2 separate regions of the Homo sapiens genome follow, and region 1 is linked to region 2. The links come from fine-mapping of genetic effects on gene expression. Tissue or cell type: whole blood. Region 2 holds a variant in brackets; the other region holds the start of a gene. All regions are shown on one strand. Distances are between the middles of the regions. Region 1 holds the start of ADTRP (androgen dependent TFPI regulating protein). Region 2 holds the start of LOC124901258 (a long non-coding RNA gene).

The links. PIP is the estimated chance that this variant, and not a neighbour inherited with it, causes the effect.
Region 1: ADTRP starts here. The variant in region 2 is fine-mapped to the expression of ADTRP in whole blood (TOPMed, PIP above 0.99).

The regions. Positions count from the first base shown.
Region 1 is chr6:11,773,089-11,783,617 of GRCh38, forward strand. It overlaps ADTRP (androgen dependent TFPI regulating protein), which reads right to left and starts at 5,715. Exons shown (of 6, transcript NM_032744.4): 1 at 5,519-5,715. The coding sequence starts at 5,671.
Region 2 is chr6:11,724,732-11,733,983 of GRCh38, forward strand. The region is part of intron 4 of ADTRP (androgen dependent TFPI regulating protein); the gene reads right to left. LOC124901258 (a long non-coding RNA gene) reads left to right here and starts at 2,434. Exons shown (of 2, transcript XR_007059452.1): 1 at 2,434-2,683; 2 at 5,327-6,516. RefSeq lists enhancers at 4,803-4,972, 7,357-7,656, 7,937-8,026 and a cis regulatory region at 4,888. The variant A/G (reference allele first, on the strand shown) is at 3,830.

The DNA of each region.
Region 1 (10,529 bases), 49 kb after region 2:
ATTCAACCAACATTCACGGAATGTCAGTTAGGTACAGAAATTGTCGGTGAGGTATCAGAACATAATACAGGCCAGGGAAAGCTCTGTGTTAGTGTCTTTATCTGGAATTAGGAAAAGAAGAAGTGGAAGAAGATGATGAGGAGAAGGGGGAGGAGGAAGAGGAGGGAGAGAAACCTTTTCTGTATGTTTGGTATTTTACACGATGCAGGTCAGGTTCCGTGGGAAACAATCTGAGATTCTGAGATGTGCCTGCAGGATGTTCACTGAAGAACGCTCTCAGACATCTATGAGAGGCAAAAAGGGAGAAGGATTGAAGTGGGGGAGGCTAAGTGCTGGGCAGTTGCATGGAATCAGCTGATCCCTTGAGGAGCTCTGAGCTGAGCTGCTCGTTCAGAGCTGTCCGGGAGTGCAGCATTTGCACCCCATATTGGATGCCAGTTATGGCAGGCAGCAACGCCAGGGAGGGACCTAAACCTTGGTCGAGGCAGCTCCCTTCTGCTGAGGGCAATTCTGGGAGGGGATCTCAGCTTTGCACCATCAGCAGCCAACACTCCTGAGAGCTGGGGACTGAGTACCTCAGCGCTGGGGAGGTATGAGGATCTGGGTGCCTTATCAGAGTATCCACTGCACATGAGAAAACTGAAGCACAGAGAAGTTAGGCAAGTCACTCAAAATCACACAGCAAGTGAGCACAGCCAGTGTTCTGGTTTCAGAAGCCAGGTCTTCAATCACTCATCTCTATACTGCGTCCAAAGAACCTACCAAAATGCTGTCATAGTTACTTGCTCAATAATTTATAGCTGCTTTATTTTGGGTGCTGGTGGTGACTATCACATAGTTCTCTCAGTCCTTACCCTTTCAGCTATTGAAGTGCATCTTTGTGAGGCAGAAATAGTTAAGTGTATTTCTGACTCCACGTTGCTGAAGAGTGCCATAGGGGTTGGGTGCGGTGGCTCACGCCTGTAATCCCAGCACTTTGGGAGGCCAAGGCAGGCGGATCACAAGGTCAGGAGTTTGAGACCAACCTGGCCAACATGGTGCAACCCCATCTCTACTAAAAATACAAAAAAAATTAGCCAGGCATGGTGGTGCATGCTGTAGTCCCAGCTACTGAGGAGGCTGAGGCAGGAGAATTACCTGAACCCAGGAGGCAGAGGTTGCAGTGAGCCAAGATTGTGCCACTGCACTCCAGCCTGGGGGAACAGAGAGAGATTCCATCTCAAAAATAAATAAATAAATAAATAAATAAATAGTGCCATAGATTATTACTTAAGGTTGGTCCCCCAAGTGTTGAAGTGGGTGCCATACTATAAATTCAACCCCATCTTCTCACTGTTCACAGGCTGCCTTGAAGTTTAGACCCATAGAGGCCTCCCAGCTCCTCTGTTCCCCCAGCCCCAGGCCAGCAACCCCAAGGACTTATGTGGTATTGCCACTGTTGTCATCATGAGAAGTTGAGGGTGATGACGACGGAGCTGCCTGGGGCTTGGGCAACTTATGAAAAGGGAGGGAAAGGTCATGCTTCTGTTGTTGAAGGGGGTGTCAGGGGCGTGGGGAGGGAGGGGCCCACTCAGAATCTCCCCTGGAGATCCCAGTTATGTGGCCCCACCTCTAACAATGTTTCAGAAGGAAGCTTATCTTTAAAAAGAGGAAACCCTAATAAACTGAATGAATTCTGCGAGCCAAGCTGTGGCTGCTGAGCCTTGCCCTAAACCCCCTAGCTCATATTCTCTGGGATTAGGGACAGTCCCTGGATGGAAATGGGGTGGACAGAGAGCAAGGGACATAGCATTTGTGGAGGACTCAGGCACTGGATGATCTGAGCCAACCTAAGCTGCTTGAGGACACCCATGGCACTGCCTTGGTCTCACGCCTAGCCTCTGGGGTTCCCCATTCTGCATGGCTGTCTGCTGGAGCCTGCAGACTCTACCACCAGGACGGCCTGGTGCCTGCGGGCAGCTACAGCAGGGAGAGCAGTGGCTCGACAGTGGTCCTTCTCCAGCTGGGAAGATGGGGCATGCAGCTCGGGGAGGGAGAAATAGTAGCCATGAAGGGGAAGGGGGTGGATGACTCCTGCTGGCCTCCACCCCGCAACAACCTAGGTGCTCAGTGAGGAGACTGATGTTCTACTAAGTCACCCTCCTGCATCACCTTCTCTACCCAGAGAAGTTCACCATCACCTCCCCATCTTCTCTCCCCACTGTCCACTGCCTAACACCCTGCTGACGCCATTCTGAGCGCTTCCCACCTGTCAGATCATTTCTCCCCCATGGCTACCCTATGGTTAGGTACTATTTTTATTTCTATTTGACAGACGTGGAAATGAAAGACACAAAGAAGTGCCTAGCCCAGGGTCTCGGGGGCAGTAAGCAGTGGGACTGAGGTACCATCCCAGAGATCGCAATTGTAACCATTGTGAAATACCACCTCTCCCTCCCAGCAGGGAATCAGTGGCCCCTTCACTGAGGTCAGTTTACTCTCTTATTAGGCAGAGACTCCCATCTGTCCTCTCCTACCTTCACTCTCCTTAGTCAGAAATGGGTCACCCTGACCAATTCTCAATGGCACCTTAGCCACTACCACCAACCCCAGGGGAGTAGCTCAGTGCAACTCGTGTCTGTCTCCTGTCTCCTGTCTGTCTCCCCTTCCAGTCCCCTGGGATAGCTTCAAGGGGAACTGGGGCAATGCTCACAGTGCCAACTGGCACAAAAGGGGGCTTTGCTCTTACAAAGGGGACAAAAATGATACTCAGCCAATTAGAAATTCAAGCTGTTTACGAGGAGGGGTGTAAATTTTCTGGTAATCAGGACTGGATACTAACTTCCCCAAGGTGAGGTAAAATAAATATAAGAATGTGAGCGTAAGTTGTGAGACCTTTATGACTTAATAAACACAACCACCAATTAATTAGTCATGAATGAACACTAATTAATCATTAGGAGACACAACCATTAATCAGCCCATGAATCTCAAGAGCTAGACATTTGCAGGTCCAATATTTCACCTTAAGCAACATATTCGAAATCTACATTAAATCGATCCTCTGAAATACACTCAACCCATCTTCACCAGTTGGGAAGCATTTCATTAGGTCACACTTTCAAGATGACTCCTAATGGAGCTCAGAAAGAAAATCACCACAGGCAAGCCCCTCTCAGCTTATTTACGAGGGCCAGAAGATACCAGAAGAGAGGGACTGCTTGAGGATGCAGAAAGGCTGAGGTCACGTCAACGTACCAAGTCGCAGCTTTTTAATATCTGGGTATCCTGTGCCAGCCACTGTGCTGAATTCAAGGTAGAAATATAGACAGTTAGGGTTGGCAAGGACCTAAGATTAAAAAAAACTTCTGTTTTGGAGCCAAAGTTTGATTGGAATGTTAAGACTCACATGGCAGGGAGAGAGGGAATTAGAAAACAATACTACATATAAATCAGCAGAGACTGAGAGATGCTGTGAAAATCAGAGAAAGGAAAAGGAAATTTGGACTGGAGTTGGTCAGCAAGGATTTGGGAGGAGTATATGTGATTCCCAATGTTCTATGAAAGAAGCAATGTGGTGGAGAGAGGTAAGTAGGCCTTTCTTCTAAGGATAGAGAGAACACCGGGCAGAGAAGTGACAGCAGGAAGCCCAAGGACCAATACTAGTGAGACGCAGTCCTTACTGCAGAAGAGACCAGCCTCCCAGGGAGAGGGAACCCGAAAGGCTGGTTGGGCAGGTGAGCTCTTGAATCGGGAGTTTGACATTGGGTCCATGAGGCAGGAGGGAGCCACTGTGGTTTCCTGAGCGGCAGGCCACACTTTTAGATCCAGGTCATGGTATTAAAAAACAAACCAAAACCAGTGCTTTGAGAAGATTAATTTGGAATCTAAGTGGCTGGATTGGACCATGAATGGACAGTAAAGAGATGATATGGTCATCCAGGTAGGCTTAATATAAGCCTGGAATGAGAGAGACAGTAGTAAGGTTGAAGAAGAAAGGATGAACTTAGTAAAAGGAAAAACTAATAGGATTTGGTAGCTGATCAATCAGGGAAGCAAAATTGGGATTAACACTAGGAAATGATAGTATCATTGACAAGATAAGAGACTTTTCTCACTCTTGGAAAATAAGGGCTCTTGGAAATGTAGGTGAGCTAGAATTAAAAAGTCAGGATCAGTTGTGTGTGTGTGTGTGTGTGTATACAAAGAGGTAAGGGAGCTAGTTAATGAGTGTGGTGATAAATCTATTCTTAGCCACACATAGTGTGAGGTAGGACATTCATACTGGAATTGGATTTTATTAGAAAGTCAGTCCTAACTACAGACACACTTCCCTTTTAGTGGACTGTTTTTCATAGAAAGCCAATAGAGACACAAACCTTAGGGGTGTGTGTGTATGCGCGTGTGTGTGTGTGGTTTTTTGTTGTTGTTGTTTACTGTGGCACTGCTAGTTATACAAAAAACATTTTTTGTTTTGTTTCTGTTTGTTTTTCTCATAAAATTCCATGATTGAAACAAGTAGTCACCTTGAAGTTTTCAAAGACACTAGAGCTGTGTTCAGGGTTCCAATTTTTCAGGCCCAAATCAAGAGGCCACTAACCAACCAGTGAGGAGGAAGCAGCCACTTTGGGCCTCTTTGATTTTAACTCTCTCCATTTCCACGTCCTTAGCATTTCAGAGTGTCACAGTTTCTGACCACATACATTCTCCGCTTGTCAAATGAGGATTACAATTCTGAAAACAGATGTTTATGTGGCACCCAAGATTTTAGTCAAAAACCTCAAATATTAATTCACATCCCCAAATGATTCCCCATTATTAGCTTTTAACTTTAAAAGTATTTTTTTAAGCTATTCCTCAAAGTATTTTTCATAATCTGCTTTTCTCCCATTCATTCACACTTCATCAGAATGCAGTCAGCCAGGTTAGGAAGACAAGAAAGGAGTAAGTCATAAGATTGGTTTTTAAATAGTTGAAAATGTGTATTTGCCATTCGGTTGGGTGATTTGTCCTTTAAGATGGAGCCTGAACCTATAAAAAATTGAGGTGGGAGCTGAACATGGCAAAATGTGTTTGCTTTTCTTAGATAAATCTGTTAGTCTGTGTGTGCTGTAAAATGGCATTATTCCTTCATTGGAAATTACACTTCCTACACACCATACGCCACTCTGCCTTCTCTTCACAGACTTCCCCAAGCAAAGTTCAAAATGCCTCCTGCATTTGTAGTTAATCCCATGGTGAAACCATTAGCATGGTCCCCTCTTTGAGCTCATCTGAAAAGAGCTCCAAGATGAGATTTTTTTTTTCAAGAGAGCATTTAACAATGAGCCAGCATAGAAATGTTAACTATAGATAATTTCCAAATTGGGTTTATCAGAGCAAATTGTTAAGTAAACAAAAAACCCAAAACTCACAAAACGGTGAAGAAGGAAGACAAATAACAAAATTGTGTATTTAATAAAATCCAAAGATGATATGTGTGGCAGCACTGATATTCTAGAGAAATGGATCGGTTCCTGGTACGGACATATGGACTTACCAGATTAAGCAGCGTCATATATTTCCACCTTGCACCATTTGCCAAGATTTTGGGTTTCACCTCGTCTTTTCCTTCCTGTGAGATGTAATAATTGAGGAAAGTATACCAGCTCAGAACAAGGAAGTGGTATATGCATGTAGAAGTCTTCGTCATGGCGAGTGCTGACCGGGGCACCGTGAATGTCTTGAGTACTTTCTGGCGTCCTTCTGTGGGTCACAGCCTAAGTCCAACAGCAGGCCGGAGAGCTACAAACCACACCCCTCTGGGACTGAGAGTTCCAACACAGGCTGAATTTGGTTCTCTTTTAAGCTCCTTTCCTGATAAACTTCAGAGGCAGGATTACTGCTGGTTTTCAGATGCCTGCATTTAGATAATGATAGATAATCTGTAGATTTGCATAAAATACAACATGTGGGCTTTGAGAAGGGCAGGTAGCAATGCAAGAGCTGTACATTGTACTGTTTCACTAGGGCACTGGGGCAGGGGCATGGTTAAATGAAGTAAGCATGAAATACTAGGAAAATCTAGCGAAATACTTCCATGGCTGTAGTCTCTTTTCTTTTCATTTGCATATAACAAGGAAGTTGCAACCTTATCTCTTGAGAAAAGGAGGAGCAGGTTGATAAACCAGATCATGGGTGTGCTTAGGGCATGAACAGTAGAAAGGAAAAGTGTGTTGTAATTTTGCTCCTGAGGTCTCTGAGATTCTAGAAAGTCTGCAACAACCTTTGATCCTCCAGGGAGCAGCTCCAATGGTTTCTTTTCTTTTTTTTTTCACTTTTGTAACTATACCCTAGAGAACCAAGAGTAACCCAGGGCTGTCCTAGACACTCCATTTGCATAGGCATTTCTGTGCCCTGGGAGGGAAGAAGCAGCACAGGAGACCATCCTTACTATGGCCATGACCCCAAAATACCTGACTTTAGACATTGCTGGGAGAGGGTGAGAGTCCCCGCTCTGCCATGAATAGGATGAGACGTGGCTGGGCTAGGCAGCATGCCGGACTAGGCTCTGACTCAGGTTCCACAGAAGGGAACTGAGGAAGAACTAGAAGTGGATGCCTTGTGACATCGCCAGCTTGTTTCCCTGGGCAACTGACTCCGAGGGGTGAGCAAATCCCTCAGAGAAATGCTCCTGACACAGTTATGTAAGTCTGTAATTGGTGCTTTTCAATGACTTAACCAGGGCTTAAAAGTACTAGCAGAAAGAACTGTAGGCTGGACAAGGAGGACAAACCATAAACAAACCCACCTCCTAAGAGTCAACAGACTCCCAATATCAGGATTGGGAGATGGGAGGAGAGCAAACCTGAGCCCGCCATGGAGTTCTGCATTGTAACCATGTTTTTTTTTTTTTTTTTTTTTTTCATCTGTTGGGGCTGCTATAACAACATACTGTAAACTGGGAAGCTTGGAAACAACAGAAATTTATTTCTCAGTTCTGGAGGCTGGAAGTCCAACATCAAGATGCTGACAGAGTGCCTGGTGTTTAATGTGGGTCGGTTTCCTGGTTCATAAATAGTGCCTTCTGGCTGAGTCCTCATGTGGTAGAAGGGGCAAACAAGCTCCCTGAGGCCTGTTTTATAAGGTCACTAATCCCATTCATGGAGATGCTGCCCTCATGACCTAATCACCTCGGAAAGCTCCCCTCTCCTAATGCCATCACCCTGGGAGTTAAGATTTCAACATAGGAATTTGCAGGGAACACAAACATAGACCATAGCAAACCATTCTCAAAGGAAGGGGTGATCTGGGAAATGGGTACATAAAACTCTGTACAAAACTCCACAGCCTGGGCTAAATTGCAAATAATAACAGAAGCTAATACTTTTATAGTACTTACTGTTTGCTAAACATTGTTCCAGTTGCTTTACACATATTAGCTGATTAGCACTCTAAATAACACTATGAGGTAAGTACTATTACGAATTAAGTACATTTTCAGATGAGGAAATTGAAGCCCGATCTGCTAAAAGGATGTGTTCAACACTTTGTAAGAGGCAGAGCTGCCGTCTGAACTCAGTGTGATGGTTAATATTGAGTGTCAACTTGATTGGTTCGAAGGATGCAAAGTATTGCTGCTGGGTGTGTCTGTGAGGGTGTTGCCAAAGGAGATTAACATTTGAGTCAGTGGATTGGGAGAAGCAAACCCACCCTCAGTCTGGGTAGGCACCATCTAATCAGCTGCCAGCGTGGCTAGGATAAAGCAGGCAGAGGAACGTGGAAGGACTAGACTTGCTGAGTCTTCCGGACTTCATCTTTCTCCCATGCTCTCAGGATGCTTCCTGCCCTCGAACATCGGACTGCAAGTTCTTCAGCTTTTGGACTCCTAGATGTATACCAATGGTTTGCCAGGGACTTTCGGGCCTTTGGCCACAGACTGAAGGCTGCACTGTTGGCTTCTCTAATTTTGAGGTTTTGAGACTCGGACTGATCCACCACTGGCTTTCTTGCTCCTCAACTTGTAGACGGCCTGTTGTTGTGATTGTGTGTCACTTCTTAATAAATTCCCCTTCTTATATACATACATCCTATTAGTTCTGTCCCTCTAGAGAACCCTAATACAACCAGTGTACCTGCCTACAAAGGAACAATGTTGCTCTGCACACTCTCAGACTCCCACTTTGATATTTCTCCTCTCCCTACTGAGTGCCCCTTTTTTTTTTTTTGAGATGGAGTCTCGCTCTGTCGCCCAGGCTGGAGTGCAGTGGCGCGATCTCGGCTCACTGCAAGCTCCGCCTCCCGGGTTCACGCCATTCTCCTGCCTCAGCCTCCCGAGTAGCTGGGACTACAGGCGCCTGCCACCACGCCCGGCTAATTTTTTTTGTATTTTTAGTAGAGACGGGGTTTCACCGTGTTAGCCAGGATGGTCTCGATCTCCTGACTTCGTGATCCGCCCATCTCGGCCTCCCAAAGTGCTGGGATTACAGGCGTGAGCCACCGAGCCCGGCCGAGTCCCTTTTATTCTTCTCTCCTCTCATCAGAAAATTATCTCAGAAAAGGATCAATATGTTTTGAAACTTGGTGCACATATGAATGAATGAATGTCTCCAAGGGTGTTTTCATTTTAGACACCATTGTTGATTTAGAGGTTTTATTCCTTTATACAAAAAAAAATCTCAAGTCTAAGTCTGCAGATGGGTAAGGATTGACGCAAAGGTAGGAAAGGAGGGGAAGACAAAGACCCAAATCTCTGAGATGTGTGTGTCCAAACCTGGACACTGGCCTTTCACCACCTAGATGGTTTTTTTCTCTACGTTAGCCTCATTGCCCACAGATGGGGCCTCTCATAAATATTGATAAAATTATTTAAATTTATTTGTAAGAGTTTTAGTGTTTTACATTGGGATCCAATGAATTGTTAGCATTTTAATAAATAATGACATTAATATATAAGGATTTAATAACATGTAATATCATTTTAATACATATTAATAATTAATAAAATGATATTTTAATAAATAACATGTATATGTATATAAGGATTTAATAATTACATGTAATATATGTATATAAGGATTACATTATGAGTTAAGGATTATGAATTAAGAAATAGTTTTATTTCTTAAGAAATATTTTAATATTTTAAGAAATAAAACTATTTCTTAATTCAACATCTGCATTTTCTTATAAACTTTTCACAAAATTGTTGCCAATGAAAAATCTACATTGCAACCATATTCACATCATAATTTGTGTTCCTGGTTGAATAACCAGATCCATTTTCATGAAGTAGCCTGAACATCTGTTCCCCACCATGAGACCAGGTGGAGCTTTGGAGAGCAATGAATGTCACCTCTTAGTTGCACGTTATAAACTAATACATACTAAGCGTGCTGTTTGTCTGCCTTTTCCTTTCTCCAAGTATCTGAGGGCTTCACGTCATATCCAGGAGAAGTGGGAAGGAATTGTTCAAAACTTTTATTATTTTACACAGGAAATTTTAAACATTTAAAAATAAGCATATTTCATACTTTGATTTGGATACTACACAGGCCACTTGGTTACTAAGAGTGACTTTCTTTGAAACTCTCTACCCCCCTGGGAGTCCGCAACATGATTCTTTAATTTCACAAATACTTATTAAGCAACAGCTATCTGCTAGGTCCTGGGGATTCCCCGAGGAAGAAGAGCGATGCAAACCCTGCCCTCATGGAGCTTATATTTTAGCAGGAAAGATGAACATTAAGCAACAACAAAAACAAGTGTTAATTTATAACTATGGCAACTTCTGTGAAGGACAAACACAGCAGACTTATTAGAGGGGATGGCAGTATCAGACCTGGTGTGGGTAGGGCGTCAGGGAAGCTAGCCCTAAGGAAGCCACGTATGAGCAAGGCTTATTCTCCCAACATGCTCTTACTATCCTTCTCAGTCTGTTTAATGAGCTCCTCTTCCTCCACCAGCTCCTTCTGTGTTGGCATTCCCCAGAGAGCTGGTCCAGCTTACCGTCCGTCTCCCAACACATACTCACCCTAGTGATTTTATCCATGATCATAATTTCTACCACTGCCTTCCAGTTTGTGACCACAAATTATATACCTCTGGTCCAGGCCCTCTCCCTATCCCCACCAAGCTTCAAACACATCTTTGACTACCTGTTGGAATCTCCTGAAGGAGACAGACACGCCTCAAACTCCATACGTCTAAAACGAGCTCACTGACTTCCGCCAAACCAGGCTTTTCTTCTCTAGTCTCTGTCCTGTGACCATGGCCTCACCATCGACCTGGGAGCTTCCTGTGTCCTCCCGCTTTTTTACTCTTCAAATCCAGTTAACCACCAAATCCTGCCAAGTTCATTTCTTACATCAGGGTCAAATCAGTCCCTTTCTTTCCATCCCTTCTACAACTGCCCTCGTTCAAGTGGCCTCCATCTCTTGCCACCACCATAGCAACCAGCAACCTAGCTGGTTTTCCTGAATCTAGTTTGATGCCCCAACGCTGTTTTTCACAAGGTCAGTGAGTGATTCTCTCTGAAATGCCACATCCCCCACCAGCTCATGTCGTTTTAC
Region 2 (9,252 bases):
CTGTCCCCATCTCCTCAATGTGTAAAGTGAAGATCCAAACAGCATACACCTTCTAAGGCTGTTGTAAAGATTACGGGAGTTAACACATGTAAAAGACACAGAACAGTGCTTGGCACATTGTAATATTTGACAAGAGTTCAAAAGCTTCCATCTCCACTGAGGGATGGCACAATGGGAGTGCTCTCAGAAAGCCTTCTTTGAAGCTGCTGATCTCTTGTAGCAATTAGGATAGGCCAGGTTATGCTTCAAAAACAATATTTAAATTTGAATATCCCACGTTGTCAAAGGAATTCAGATGGAAGAATGAAATTCTGTGCTTAAACTTTCAGAAACCCAAGGGTGATCTCTGTCATTTCAAATACTTGAAGTTTGTTAAATGGTTTGTGGAAGAGTCAAGGGCTATATTCAGGACCGGGAGTAGGGTGAAGCAAGAGAGGCCCTAGGGTGTAAAACTTAAGGGATCATCTCTGCAACAAAGGACACAATAAACAGTGTGAAAAGGCAATCCATGGAATGGGAAACAATATTTCTAATCATATCTCTAATAAGGGGTTAATATCCAAAATATGTAAAATATTCCTGTAACTCAACAATAACAAAAAACCCAAATAACTCAATTAAAAATGGACAAAGGACTTGAATAGACCTTTTACAGAGAAGATACATAAAAGGCCAACAAATGCATGAAAGGATGTTCAACATCACTAATAACTAGAAGAAATGCAAATCAAAATGACAGTGAGATATTGTCTTACACTCATTAGGATGGATACTATATTTTTTTTAAAAAGACAAGATAACAAGTGTTAGTAAGGACATAGAGAAATTGGAACCCTTGTTCATTGTTGGTAGGAATGGAAGATGGTACATCTGCCTTGGAAAACTATATGGTGGTTCTCCCCAAAATTAAAATAGAATTACCATCTGATCCAGCAATTCCACTTCTGGGTACACACCCAAAAGAACTGAAAACATGGCTAACATGGTGAAACCCCATCTCTACTAAATATACAAAAAATTAGCCAGGCGTGGTGGCAGGTGCCTGTAGTCCCAGCTACTTGGGAGGCTGAGGGCAGGAGAATGGCATGAACCTGGGAGGCAGAGCTTGCAGTGATTGGAGATCGCGCCACTGCACTCCAGCCTGGGCGAGAGAATGAGACTCTATCTCAAAAAAAAAAAAAAAAGGAATTGAAAACAGGGATCTGAAGAGATATTTGTACACCCATGTTTATAGCAGCATTATTCACAATAGCCTGAAGGTGGAATCTCCCCAAGTGCCCACTGATAGATGAATGGATAAATAAAATGTGGCTTATACATAGGCATTAAGAAGGAAGAACATTCTGACACATGCTACCACACAGATCAACTTTGAAGACATGGTAAGTGAAATAAACCAGTCGTAAAAGGACAAATACTGTATAATTCCATTTATATGAGAAACCTAGAATGTCAGATTCATAGAGGGAGAAAGTAGAATGGTGCTTGCCATGTGGTTGCGGGAGGAGGCAGCGGGGAATGCTATCTATGGTTTCAATATGGTTTGTTTGTTCGTACCAAAACTCATGTTGAAATTTGGTCCTGCGTGTGTTGGTGTTGGGAGGGGGAGCCTAGTGGGAGGTGTTCGGGTCATGGGGTTGGATCTCCTAAGAATGGTTTGATGCTGTTCTTGTGATAGTAAGCTCTAGAAATGGATTTTTTCTATGAGAATGGGTTGTTATAAATCTAGGGTGCCCCTCAGGTTTTGCCCTTTTCACACGTGTCCATTTCCCCTTTGATCTTCTCCACCACATTGTGAGGCAGCAGTAAGGCCCTTGTCGGCAGCCAGGGCCATGCCCTTGAACTTCTCAGCCTGCAGAATATGAACTAAATAAACCTCTTTTCAATCTCTGATATCCTTTTATAGCAACACAAAATGGACTGAGCCAGGGAGTTATTGTTTAACGGGTAGACTTTCAGTTTGGGAAGATGTAAAAGTTCTGGAGATGGATGGTGGTGATGGATGCACAACAAGGTAAATGTACAAAATGCTACAGAGCTTAAAAATGATCAAAATGGTAAATCACTTAAAATCGTTAAAGTTGTAAATATTGTGTACCTTTTACCACAATTTAAATGTATCTAAGGAGGTGTCAATTTTAGGGTCATATAAATGTAGGGTTGGCATTTAGTTCCTCGCCTGGGCCCTGCTGGTATCACTCTGCTTTCCCAAACTTGTCTGGATGTTCCTCCCAGATTGAGAATGAGGTGACTAGAACAAACAATAATTATCATCATTGTTACTAATATTAGAATTCTTTTTCTTTTTTTAGATGGAGTCTCACTCTGTTGCTCAGGCTGGAGTGCAGTGGTGCAATCTCGGCTCACTGCAAGCTCCGCTTCCTGGGTTCAGCGATTCTCCTGCCTCACCCTCCCGAGTAGCTGGGTTTACAGGCGTGCGCCACCATGCCCAGCTAATTTTTGTATTTTTTGTAAAGACAGGGTTTCACCATGTTGGTCAGGATGGTCTCAAACTCCTGACCTTGTGATCCGCCCACCTCAGCCTCCCAAAGTGCTGGGATTACAAGCATGAGCCACCATGGCCAGCCTAGAGTTCTTTAAGATATGCGTTCCATGGATGCATTACAGGATGCCCACAGTGATTCTTACCTGCATGGCTACTTCTCATGGCAGGACAAAGAAGGTATATGGCATAGAAAATAAACAGTTTCAAGTAGATAGGGCTAGGAGTTTGGAGTCAGTGAGGAGCTCTGAATGTACTCCAAAAAGTTGCATCACTTAGTTCACTTTGTTTACTTTATATAGTTGAAATTAGGGCTTCTGAATTCCCATGCACATTTATGTAAGATAGTCTATAAATAAGGACATCCCCCCAGAGGCTTGGAAAATTTCTGTTTACTTCATGTTTGTTTCCTTCAGCATAAGGCTTGTAAAAGAAAGTTCCCGAGGTAAGCTAATGAATTGTGTACTTTCACAGATAAAGTGTAAGGAAAGTTATAGGTGTGGTACCTGACAGTAGGAAAATTAACAGAGATACAGAGTATGAGGCAAGATGATAGTAATTTACCAAGGGTACTCAGCAGAGAGGCGTGAATGAGGACAGAGTCACACTGTTAGTTGACATCACTTCTTTATGGCTTGCCTGAATATGAGGGGAAGGTGGGAAGAGAGAGGGGAAAGAAGAAGGAAGGAAGGAAGGAAGGACGGAAAGAAGGAAGGAAGGGAGGCAGGGAGGGAGGGAGGTAGGTAGGGAGGGAGGGAGGGAGGGAGGGAGGGAACTTTGCATTCAACATGTCTTCTATTTCAGCCAATGTCAGCCCTCCATTCAATCTTGCCCCCAAGTTTGATCCCATGAAATCATATCTATACTAAACTTCCTTCTAAATGTTTCTTCAGCGCACACATTTCACAATCTTCCTTCAGCCTCCTTCATTCCATTTGGGTTTCTGTCATTGTCTACCAACTAGGCTTTCTTGCTCCTTTCAACCCACTTCCCCTATTGCAAGCCATCAGTAATCCGGTAATCTTCCTAAAAGCGAGCTCTGTCCACAGCCCTCCCCTGCCTGCAGTGAATCCCAGGATCCCAGCTGCTTACCTGGCCTGGCCATGCCCCGCTTCCATCTGGAGATCTGCAGTCCATCCATATTGAACCCCTTTGTTTCTTGAGTGAACTGAGCGCTGCAGTTTCTTGGCTTTCACACCTGCTGTTGTCTTCACTGGGTACACCTCTGACCTTTTTGTTTCCTGGAACCTACTTCTCTTTGCCCTGTGTCTGGCTGAATCTTACTCACGCTTCAAATCTCAGCTTAAAAGTCTATTTCTCTAGAAA[A/G]GATTTCCTGAAGCTCTCTCCCCCAACCCTGATTCGGGTAAATGCTTACGCCAGGTGCTTCCTCCACCCTGGAACTTACCTTTGTTACTTATTTGATTGTTTTTCTCACTAGCTTGAAAGCTCTGCAGGGGCAGGGACTGTCTCTGTCAGGCACATTTATTTGCCAAGTGCCCAAAATGCAGCAGGTTCTTTGAATTTTGAAATGAATGGCTGTGTTGGGTGGCTCTGTAGGACACTGCTATGGACGGCTCTCAGTCGCCTGACTCACCAAGACCACCACAGGCTCTGGAAATTTGGAAATGTACCCAGTGGCCTTTCAAGTTTTGGTTAATCTCACTTTACTAATACTTTGAAGAGGCCAATGACGTTGCCCCTCAGTTCAAAGAGCAATTTCACATCTTTCTTGAGCCATCTGCTACGTGAACCTCTGTGAGTTGGACTGGGTGGGCACCAAATGGCAGCCAAAAATTAATCTTTTAGGGTCTCCTTATCCTAAATCTTAGAGCATTATAATGGCTGTCAAGAAATTCATAACTTCTGCGTCTTATCAGTAGAGAAATACCGACGTCTGTGGGTGGCAGATAAACAGATAACGGAGTTTTGTGGGCTTTGGGCATATAATTCTTTCTTTCGGTGTTAACCCTCAGGTCACGTCTTTCCAGCCCAGGAGAATAAATCAAACAGAAAGAGTCAGGAGAAACTGCAAGGCTAGAGTGTTAGTCAAATAGTTTACCTAGATGTTGAGGTGTCGGCAGTGATGAGAGTCATTGGGGTGGCAACCTCATCACGGCATTTAGAGCTGTTGCCCAACCCCTCCCTGAGACACCCCCTTCCAGTTTGAAGCCTCTCTGCCTTCAGGGCCCATGGTTTTCTAACTTCCTGCCCTTCTACTACCTGGTAATTCCTTGCTACCTTTGCTGCTCCTTCCCCCTCCTGTCCCTGAGAGGAGGGCCTTTCCCTGGTGTTTGCTTCTTACTTATCTTCCCTCTCTCCTCTCTCTCTTTCCAGCAATCTTGTCACTCCACGAGGGTTCAACTAGCTGCATCTCCTCAGCCCCATCTTTCTTGAGACTGCAGGGTCTGAATTTCTGAATGGAAATTCCTCCAGGCAGGTGATTCTCAATCTTGTCTCAAAATTAGAATTGACTTGAGGGCCTTAAAAATTCCAATGCTGAGGGCATATCCTGAACCAATTAAACCAGAGTATTTTTGAAATGAGACCTAGATATGGGATATTAAACTGACTGTTTTACTTATACCCAAGACGATTACTTTCACAATTCATTTTCATCTATCAATGGAATCACCATTTTTCTTGTCTACTAACTTAAAATTTTTAGAATTATCCTAATTTTTCCTTTTCATTTGTGTGGTACATGTCAATCAATCCATAAAACCTATTCTGTTGTTTCAACAATGTGTCTCAGGCATGTCTCTCATTTCTGATTCTACAGTTTTACTCTCTTCATGCCGTTATTATTTCTGATTTCTGTTACAGGCATTTTGGTTGAATAAGAACTAAGGTTTGAACAGGAAAGATGAGAAGAGCAGGAGATGAGATACCCTCTCCTCTCCTAGTCCTCCACCTCCATCCCTCTTCAGTTTGGATCCTGGCTGGGCTGGACCCCGCATGTTGACAACAAGGATGTGTTGTGTGGCATCTTTTTAATTAATTTTCATATATGAATTTACAGGTAGGGTAAGGATTTCTTCTGTGGAAAATGGTGCTGAGATTCCAATCCCTGCTGAGTTGAGGTTATAAAGCTATGGTTGACCTGGATGATCTCAGTTGAAGGTCATATTTTGGAAACGGTAACAGTGGCTCTGGTAGGGAGTTCACAACATGGTTGGTTCTGAGCAGGACCAACCATGTGTTAGGGAAAATATTTATTCAATAGAAAAATGAATAAAAACCAGAAAGAGAAGAAGAGAATTGCTGATTCTGGAAATGGCAAGGTGGCTGGTCCTGGAACTCAGCTTAGTCCACCCCTTGGCAGTTTTTAATGTATTCTCAGGGTAAGATGTGTACATGTATTTGTAAATGAGGCATGAATTTAAAGAACTGTTACTTCTGGGAACCCAGGAAGCTTTGCTGAGGGATCTTACCCTGGAGAGCACAGTATAAAAGAAAGTAATTCTCTCTCTTGCCTCATAGCAACTACTTTGGGGAAGGGACTTTACAAACATCTGCCCCAAGGCTGGGTGACAGCTGCATATCTGTGCAGTGTTTGTACGGGGCATGCAATACTTTACACACTAGCAGGGACACCTGCAGCATCAGTAGGTTTCTGGTCTACCAAGAGCAGTGTGATGATGCACTCCAGGCCAGCTGGGGTGGTTGCTGTGGCGAGTAACATTGTTAATTCTACCAACACAGGGGGCTGATGGGTAAATGACACTGTTGGCATCAGCAGTGGGCATGGTGTGCTAACCCTTAACACTGTGCCAGGTGGGGATGTTGGACCCAGTGGGGATTACAGTTTTGCTATCTGTGTGTAAGAACAATGCTCAGAACAGTGTGCAGCATGGGTTGTGCAGTGCACGACAGGGGCATGTGTGAGCACTCAGCAGATTATTGGAACTCCTTGGAAAACTGGACCAAGACCTCCAAGGCAGAAGGGTGCTTGGGGATATCACTGGAACTGTGAAATAACCATACATAAAAACTAAGACATTGTGATCAAAGTACATAATGTGCTGGCTAGTTTTTATTTTTATATTGGTTTATATTTTATTTTGTTTCCCATCTCTTGTCACTCCAACTTATTTGAAGCACTATTGTCAAGAATGACATTTTAAAGCATAATTTGCTGGCCAAGTTACAAATACTGCTCACCCTTGCTTCCACTCCAAACAAACAAACAAACAACAGCAACAACAAATGCTCCCATTTTCTATACTATGTCCAACATCCTCTAGTCTGCCATCTGCAAGCCTTCATGAGTGGGTAGTTCCAGGGATATTTCTCATTAGTCTCTTTCACAAACAGGTCCAGCAAAGAGAATTACTGACCCTTGCTCTCACGCTTTCTGCACTCTCCTGGCCTTGGGACTGTGCTCCTTTTGTTTACCTTCTCTCATTTTTTCTAGCTCCAATCCTGCCGGTCCTTCAGGGCTCAGATCCAATGCATGCCTTCCACAGTGCCCTTCCCACACCGCTCAGCTGGATGCAAACTCTTCCTTTTCTGTGGCTCCTTGTGTTTTTTTTATGAGGTTTTACCACTTTCCATCTTCTGCACTTATAATTTGTATGCATGGGTCATCTCCACTTATTAAGGATAAACCCCCTGCAGGCTGAAGCTTGGCCTGATATAACATTGCTTTTCTGGGCAGGACCAACCATGTGTTAGGGAAAATATTTATTCAATAAAAGAAAGAATAAAAACCAGCAGAAGGAACATTTCTATTTTTTTGCTCCTCACCACTGCCTCAGGGAGAACTAGGTGAGGTGTTTTGGGGTAGGAGAGAAGGGAGAAATAAGTGAGCTACCATATTTAAAGGTGACTAATGCTTTCCAAAGGAAATGAAAGCTTTGCAGTCATTACTATTTTGCAAAGCTTTATTTTCCCACTTAGGGGAGAGCTCTTCAATTTTGCAATCTGAAAAATAACTAAAAGCAACCACCACATGTAAGGCGGTCCCCACGGTCTCAGGAACTATTTTTAGGTCATTTGAACATGGTTTCGGCGGTGAAATGCTTCTCCAGCTCAGCTTCAGTGCCGTTTTCCTGACTCATGTTCGTTTCTCACGCTCCCTCTGGCCCGAGCCCATGCTCTTTACCTCATTCGTGTTATGCCATTTCCCCATTTGACTGTCCAAACTGGCACATCTGACAGTGGGCCCATAGCCACTTCCCTAAAACGTCTCCATGGGTGTCTGCAGTTTGTAGAACTTCATGGCCATCTGTGGCTGTGAGGAGCCAGGGGCCCTGGAAACTGCGTAAGGGTGGGGTTGGCAGGCACCAAAGAGTCTGAGCTCCTCTAACCAGGGCGTGAGCAGAAATAGAGATGCTTCCATCAACAGGATCACATCAAACACCCTCCTTTAAGTGTCTATATTTGATTTGTTCTAGCAAAAATGGGGCTTAGTGGACCAAATACCAACTTAGCATTTTTCATGAAGGACGAAATCCCAAACCACCTCAGCTCCCCACTGGGCACTGGGGCTCACCCAGTCACGTTCCTGCTGGTGACAGGTCTCCATCCCTTCCCTCCACTCCCTTCATTACCAGTACTTTAATGTCTAATCCAAGCACATAGAGCTGGGAACAACACGTGAAAGATTTCAAAGTGCAGAGCTAGGTCAAGCTTTGTGCATGCCCATCCATCCAGCATTTAGCTGAATGGTTTTGCACACACTGGGAATTGAACAAATACCTGGCCATGTAAACACAGTGGAAAGACAACTGGATTTGGAGAGAGGAGACCTCAGTTTTAGTTGGCTCAAGTACCAGCTTTGCATCTCTACCCCACCTCTGCCATATGACCATGGGCATGTCATCTACCCTACTGGAGATTTAGTTTTCCAATGCTAAGTCATCTCTAAGTCACCTCCCATTGTTCACACTCTCTGATTTTATTTGTGGATTGACTGATGTTATCATCAGTTGGCTAACATCAACTCCCCTGAGTTACCAGCAATGCCACCAACTGGTCTACCTGTCTTGTTCCTCTTCAGTCTAATGTCCACACTTCAGCCAGAATCATCTTTCTAATCAGCTTTCTTACATAAACCACATCATTTCATTCCTCTGATTATAACACTTTTCTACAGAAAAGCACTTGGTTTAAAAGTCCAAACGCACTAATGTGGATTTACGACCTGGCTTTACCCTGTCCTCCAATTCAGCCATACCCTCAGCTCCTCCAGCCCTTTGCAGATGCTGTTTTTTCTGCCTGAAGGTCTTTTCCATGTCTCTTTTGACCTATTCTTATTCATTCCTTGGGCCTCAGCTTAGACAGTGCTTCCCTTTAAGAAGCCAGTCCTGCACATCTCTCTGTGTGCCCATAGCATCCTGGGCTTATGCCTATTACAGTCCTATCACCCTGTCTCCCACTGTCTGTTATGCTCCTCTTTCCCGGACAGCCTCTAAAGGTAGCAGGTTTCCTGAACTTCACTGTATCCTCCATATTTTAGCACAGTGCCTGGCGCTGGTGAACCACTGAATGGATAACGATGCACTTGTACCTGGCTCCCATCCTGTGGCATTTCTTTCTCCAACATCCTAATTACCTGCATCATGGGGACACCCGCCCAGGTACTGACAAACCAACCTCCTGGCCTCTACTACTCATTTTTATAGCCACTACAATTTTCCCCAATAACAGCAGTGGCCTTAGGTGCTTTTCATCTTCTTCATCCCCAAAAAGGAAAAGAAAAACAAGGGTCAGATATGTGAACTGAAAATCAACTTACAAGTCCTTAG